Homo sapiens: one gene and its partner. The protein of the gene in region 1 purifies or fractionates together with the protein of each later gene. This does not show direct contact. Each region holds a gene or a part of one and is shown on either strand. Other genes may lie near its edges.

Region 1 (3,657 bases):
GCAAGGATCAGATATGTTTCACTTCATTATTTATTTTTCTCTCCATATTGCGTTTAGGTAGTACAGGTGTGAATCAGGGTTTTGTTTTTTGTTTTTGTATGTTGAGGAAGTTAATTCTGAATGCTAGGAGTGGCATTGACACATTTCTTTTTTATGTTTCTTCCAGAAATTGTAGTAATTGGCTGCTTTTCACTTGACATGGGAATAAATTTTAGAGCCAGAAGAGCTAGATTGTAAGCTCCCTGAGGGCAAAGCCAATTTTCGTTTTCTTCTGACTTTCTCACAAAACATTTCTCATAGATCCTTAGATGTCACAGGCATTATTACTATTTGTTGAATAAATCACTAATGAGAATCTTGATCATTTGCACATATTCAAATTGTGTGTGAATGGACCAATATATAATAAAATGGAGGGAGAGAAGTGATTGTTAAAAGTTAGACTTGGCTTGCCTTTTCCACACTGGGTTCTCTTTAGGCCAATGGACTAATCATGAGGGTTTATAAATATAATCAGTCAAGGGTTTTTGTATAACTCAGACATTATCTACACAAGGCACTCTGCCCTTTGCTTTCTGCAGTGCTCTCCTGTCCTCTTTTGGAATGGGTTTGGAATTGTTAAGATTGTTAATTAACCATTTCTGGAGGTGGACTACATGTGATTTGGATACCAGACATCAGAAATAGAATGCTAAACTTACTGGAAAAGTATTAGGATTTGGGCCTGTGATGACATTGCTTACTTATAATGATGGATTTCATTACAAAATTGTGGGTTTTTTTTTTTTTTTGGAGATAGAGTCTTGCTCTGTCGCCAGGCTGGAGTACAGTGGCACGATCTTGGCTCACTGCAACCTCCACCTCCCGGGTTCGAGCGATTCTCCTGCCTCAGCCTCCCGAGTAGCTGGAACTACAGGTGTGCACCACCACCACCGCCAGCTAATTTTTGTATTTTTAGTAGAGACGGGTTTTCACCATGTTGGCCAGGATGGTCTCAATCTCTTGACCTTGTGATCTGCCTGCCTTGGCCTCCCAAAGTGCTGGGATTACAGACATGAGCCACCGTGCCCAGGCTGAAAAATTGTTTTTTATCATTACCGTTTCTAATTTGTTAGGCAAAATAATGGAGGTTCACTTTATATCTTCTAGGTCTTTAGTGTTCACTAAAAATAACTGGTAAGATGGTATATAAGTAAGACATGAGAAAGAAAGTTAAATTATTTTACCTTTGTTGGAAATTCCCTTTTGCATGGTGAGAAACCAACGAGTTGGCAAGTTGTTCCTCTTTGACCCAATTTCTTAAAAGCCAAGTTGCAACATATATTATATAATACAATGAAGTGTTTAGTTCTACCTTATAATGGTTTTGATGTGTTAAGTTCTGCTAAGCAAGCTTTGGTTTGCAGAAATAGAAATATAGACTTAGCTCTTTGTTTCAGCTACAGTGGTATTTGAAATATATTAAATGTTAACATAACCTTGTGAATTTGGGACTCGTGGAGAAATTAATTTTTTAAAATATTTTAAGGATGTTTGTGGGAAAACAGCTGAAATCTGAATAAAGCCTGTAATTTAGTTAGTAGTGTGGTACCAATGTTAATTTCTTAGCTTTGGTAATTCTGCTCTGTGAATGTAAGATGTTAACATTAGGGGGAAGCTGGGTGAAGGGTGTACTTGCACAGTTTGTATTGTTTTTGCAAGTCTTCTATAAATCTGAAATTTTTTCAAAATACAGAATTTTAAAGCACCCTTTGCAAAGAGTGGTAATATGTTTGTTTAGCAGTTAAGTTTATTTTTTCTTTTTCAGATAACTATAGTCATAGCATTTTACATTTTCAAGGTGCTTTCGCTAGATTGAAAATTGATAATGAAGAAAATACTTCAAATTTAAATCAGTGAGCATGAAAGAAATATGCTAAGAAATTACTATAACATTCTTAGTGTTCTGTATATGTAAAGAAGAATTGCTTGAGCATAATAAATTGTTCCGATCTAGAAAATTATAGGTTTTAGTCTCTCATGTTTTCAAAGGGTTATTTTTACAGATTTTAAGAAAAGAATCTATTGACATGTAGTGATATATGGATAAGTGTGTATATAATTTTGGTAATTCAAAATGAATTTTCTTTAATGAACAAGTAATTTGAATTATGTCTTCAGATTATATAAATTCTTTATAAATGAAGCATAGCCTAGCCTTTAGATTTGGTAAAAGTTGGTTTCAGAATTTAAGCAATTCTGTGACAATTCTAGAAAAGTCAATACCTTTATTTAAATTTTTCATAATTCTCTAAGGATTGTAATATATTCTAGGAATTGTGAGGCTGTATACAGTAGAGGAACTATGTATTAGATTAAATATTGTTTTCTTTCAATTTTTGTTTTAGATTTCATTAAGTTTCTAGAATGAGCATGTATTATCTAAATATCCCAAGGCTTAGTTTTCATTTAGGGAATCAGGCATTTTAATGAGTTTTATGCTTTTCAACAGTGAAACATTTTTCTTAGGGGTTATGTCCACCATGCATTTTACTTTAGTTCTGAGATTCTTCTCTTTGAAAACCAACTTTCCTATAGTTTCACTTTTTAGTGTGCTTACTATCTTTATGAATATAACATGCATGTTAATAGGCTTATTTTATAAGCGAGGGAAGGTTTAATTATTAATGTCTTTCCAACTCACAAACATTCTAAAAAGGTACAAAATAATGTAAATCTTGCATTATAAGAGGATGTTGCTTTTTTGCTTCCTAAAATACCGCGGTGGTTTTCAGTTTAGTCATCAGAAAGCCTGAGTTGACACTGTAGCTCTGAAAAACCCAGCAGAGAAAAATAAGTTGGGCTGCCTTGGGTGGAGAGGAGGAAAGATTTAGTCACCAAGCTTCCTAGTCTGTAGTGCCCCCATCATTGGTGAGGAGGCTGGCAAGGCCAGGGCATAATTAAGGGTCTGGGAGTATGTGAGAGAAAAAGACAAAAACAGGATGAGAAGAGAAGTGTTGTGTACTCAGGTGTGGGATGTGACAAGCTCTAGAGATCTTAGCAAGGGAGGGTCACTCCCCTTGTGCCCTCTTAGCTATGAAGGAGAAACACATGGAAAGTTGAAGGAGGGCCATGAAGAGTGGCAGTTGTGCAGGTAGATCACAGTGACATCCTGCCTCAGTGACGTTAGGTGGCTCTGGGGAGGGCCTGGGAAACTGCACCAGTGTTGATGGTGAGCTAGGTTTTAATCTGTGCTTCTCAAAACCTGCTGTCCACGGGGAGCATCTGGAGGCCTCCTTTCAAAGGCTGCTTCCTGGGGCCCAGCTGTGGTGATTCTGATGTCCACGACAGAGGTCCCCCAGCATCCCTGGGTGGTCAGGGTTTGTAGCCACAGTTGAAGAAACGTTGTCCTGAAAGAGGAGGTTTTTGTTTTGTTTTGTTTTGTTTTGTTTTGTTTTTTTTGAGACAAAGTCTCGCTCTTGTCCCCCAGGCTAGAGTGCAACTGAGTGATATTGGCTCACTACAACCTCTGCCTCCCGGGTTCAAGCGATTCTCCTGCCTCAGCCTCCCGAGTGGCTGGAATTACAGGTGCCTGCCACCACGCCTGGCTAATTTTTGTATTTTTAGTAGAGACGGGGTTTCACCATGTTGGCCATGGCTGGTCTTGAACTCCTGACC
Region 2 (3,657 bases), on another chromosome or scaffold:
CAGTGGAACATAATGGAGCAGAAACAAACCCACAGCATATGGTCTTCAGATTGACAACAGTAGAGTCTTAAAAGTATGGTCATTTCAATAAATGACGCTGGGTCAATTGAATATACATATGGGGAAAAACTGAAATTTGACCCCCTTCCTCATACCAAATGCAAAAATCAGTATAAGACAGGTTGTAGATTTAAATGTGAAGAGTAAAAATAAGGAACGTTTTAGAAAAAACACCTAAAGAGTATCTTCATGGCCTTGGGGTAGACAATGATTTTCTTAAACAGGAAACAAAAGCACTAACTATACAGTAAGAAAGTCGATAAGTTGGGCTACATTAAAATTAAGTTTCTATTTATGAAAAGACCACTAATAAAAGAATGAAAAGTCAAAGAATGGGAATAGATATTTACAATGCATATATCTAACAAAGGACTCTTATCCAAAATATATTATTTTTCTACATTGTATGTATATATCCGAAAAAACACAGAGCCGAACAGATACTTGAGCAAAAAAGTTGAATTGGTCAATAAACATGAAGTGATTTACCACTTTATCAATCTTAAGGGAAATGCAGATTTAAATGGTAGTATCATACCATCTGACACCCACCAGTTGATTAAAATGAAAAATAAGGAAAATAGCAAACATACTTTAACTCTCATTTAGTACTTACAGAACAACCAATTATGAAAACTGGTATCTATTAATACTGGGCATATGTATAAACTACGACCCAGAAATCTCACTTATAGGTATTTATCCCAAAGAATTGTTTACATGTGTACAAAATGTAGTACTGCTCCTAATAGCTAACAATGATAACCCAAATGCCATTAACAGTGGAATATGTTCATTTTGGGAAAGTCATCTAGCTCTGCACTAGTAATTAGTTTTTTTACTTTTATATGTGTACATTAAAAGAAAACTAATGTACATGGAAAGCTATCTGCTTCTATGTTTATAACGGACATATGGTAAGATACACAAACAATTGGTAACATTGCTTGCCTACAGGGTTTGTCTTTTGAACCATGTGAATGTATTACCTATTCAAAAATAAATATAGTCATGCATTACATAATGACATTTTAGTCAATGACAGACACAGACTTCTTATTGCCTATGACATTATGGCCATTCTAACATGGTGGTGCAATGCATCACATGTGTTTGTGGTGATGCTGGTGTAAACAAACCTACTGAGCTGCCAGCTGTATAAAACTATAACACATATTAAGATTGTATACAGTACATAGTATTTTGATAAACGTGTTACCACTTATTCTTTGTTATTTTAGAGTGTACTTCTACTTATAAAAAAGTTAACTGTAAAACAGCCAGGCAGGTCTTTCAGGAGGTATTCCAGAAGAAGGTATTGTTGTTATTAGAGATGACAGCTCCCTGTGTGTTACTGCCCCTGAAGACCTTCCAGTGGGACAACATGTGGAGGTGGAAGTGGTGTTGATTACCCTGGCCCTGTGTAGACCTGGGCTAATGTCTGTGTTTGTGTCTTTGTTTTTAACAAAAAAAGTTTAAAAAGAAAAAGCCTACATTTTAAAAATAGAAAAAACTGATAGACTACAGATGTAAATAAAGTATTTTTGTATAGCTGTACAGTGTGTTTCTCTTACTACAAAAGAGTCAAAAACTTTAAAAATGGATAGGTTTATAAAGTTAAAAAGTTCTGCTAAGCTAAGGTTAATTTATTAGAGAAATTTTAAAAAATAGTGTAGCTTAAGCATACAGTCTTTATGAAATATACAGCAATATACAGTAATGTCCTAGGCCTTTACATTCACTCACTACTCAGTCATTAACTCACCCAGAGCAACTTCCAGTCCTGCATGTTTTGTTTATGGTAAGTGTCCTATACAGGTGTACCGTTTTTGATCTTTTATACTGTATTTTTCTATGTTTAGATACACAAGTACTTACAATTGTGTTATAGTTGCCTACAGTATTTAGTACAGTAATATTCTGTACAGTTTTGTAGCCCACGGGCAATAAAGGGACGTAGTAGGCTCTACCATCTAGGTTTGTGTAAGTACACTCTTACGATGTTCACACAACGGAATTAATGATGCATTAAGCAACATATGCATCACTAAGTGACACATGACTGTACTACAGTTTATTAAAGATTATCATTTGTTATAGTAAATGCTAATGGACTGGATTCTTTTAAATTCAGATACTATCAAGTTGATTAAAACACAAATCCCAATTATATATCATTTGTAAGAAACAGACTTTTAAAAAGTTGGAAATAGAGAGACAAGGAGATCTTAAGAAATTTTTTTTTTTTTAGTGATAAGTTGGTAGTATGTGAAATGAGGTGGAATTTATCTTAACATCTAATAAACTGGTTGATGGGGGATGTTATGGTATAAGGCCCAGTTTATAAAGTAGAGGAAAAATGGGGTACAGTAGGAGAGCTAAGGGTCATAATGCCAACCGTATGCAAACAGTGTGGAAATAACCATCCTGAAGGTTTTATATTCTATGCTACAGTATCCTTTATAGCGGTTATTGAATTTTAGGATTATAACAAGTATTACTAATTCTAATTTTATTTTTTAGGGTTTTTTTGGTCATTTATAAACAAAACAGGTTTCTGTTTAAAAATAATTTAAGTACTATGGAAGGAGTGGGAGGAGTTTAACGTTGGCTGAAGTTGACCTTCCCTCTGAGGTTCTCACAGTCCTGCTTATCAGGAGTAACCACCATTAATAAGTTTATTTTATAATCTTCTAGAACCTATTCACACATTTGAAAAATAATATTGAAAGAAAAAACTTAAGTTTTGTTTTAGAATATTTTCTTTAAAATATGTAGCATTTTCAGCTTCATCATACACTTGCTTTGTATATTAAAGTTCTGTGAAATTGATGTTTAATGAACACTTTATATTGCACAGGTTTTAGAATTACTTCTTGCCTTCTGTTCAGTGACTCAGCTGCGCCATATGCTCACTCAGATGATGTTTGAACAGTCTCCACCTGGCAGCGCCACTCTGGGAAGCCATACTAAATGTTTAGAACCTACTGTGGCTCTACTGCGCTGGTTAAGCCAACCTTTGGACGGATCAGAAAACTGTTCTGTTTTAGCATTGGAGTTGTTCAAGGAAATATTTGAGGTAATAGGATGACTGACAGATTGACTTTTCTACTTTTGTGACTCTCAGTTAACAATTTGTCTTCAAAAACATTCTTTGTAAACTTACAGTTCATACACTTGAGGAAAACATCTCAATTACTAACAGTCATACTAGACTCGCTAGGTTTTTTTCTGCCAGTCATATATATTAGTGTTTTCCTTTTTTTTCACTGAGTAGTGTGTATGTATATATATATATAGTGCTCATTTCAGTGTAATAAGTAAAGATATTAAAAAGATTTATATAATTTGTTGCCTGACTACTGGGGATAGTTACATTGTCTCTCCATTGCAATAGATGCCATCTACCAAGTTTAGTAGGCCATTGAATGGACAATAGAGGCATATTGGATTCAGTCAGTGAAATGGAGTAGAGCATGCCAGATAATGTGCTAGGCACTTAAGATACAGACAAAACTCCACATTCTGGTAGATCTTACTATCTGGGCAATTTAATATTCTCTACTATTCTCCCTGTTTATAAATCCATTCTGTCTA

Evidence for each region. The genes of interacting proteins can lie anywhere in the genome.
Region 2: the proteins of PTPRM (region 1) and CIP2A purify together in Homo sapiens (affinity purification with mass spectrometry, with the first as the bait; one large-scale study listed by BioGRID). This does not show direct contact.

The regions. Positions count from the first base shown.
Region 1 is NC_000018.10:7,570,166-7,573,822, forward strand, and holds part of PTPRM (receptor-type tyrosine-protein phosphatase mu isoform 1 precursor), read left to right. Parts: intron 1-3,657. UniProt on the Homo sapiens protein: Receptor protein-tyrosine phosphatase that mediates homotypic cell-cell interactions and plays a role in adipogenic differentiation via modulation of p120 catenin/CTNND1 phosphorylation.
Region 2 is NC_000003.12:108,568,871-108,572,527, reverse strand, and holds part of CIP2A (protein CIP2A), read left to right. Parts: intron 1-2,920; coding exon 2,921-3,139; intron 3,140-3,657.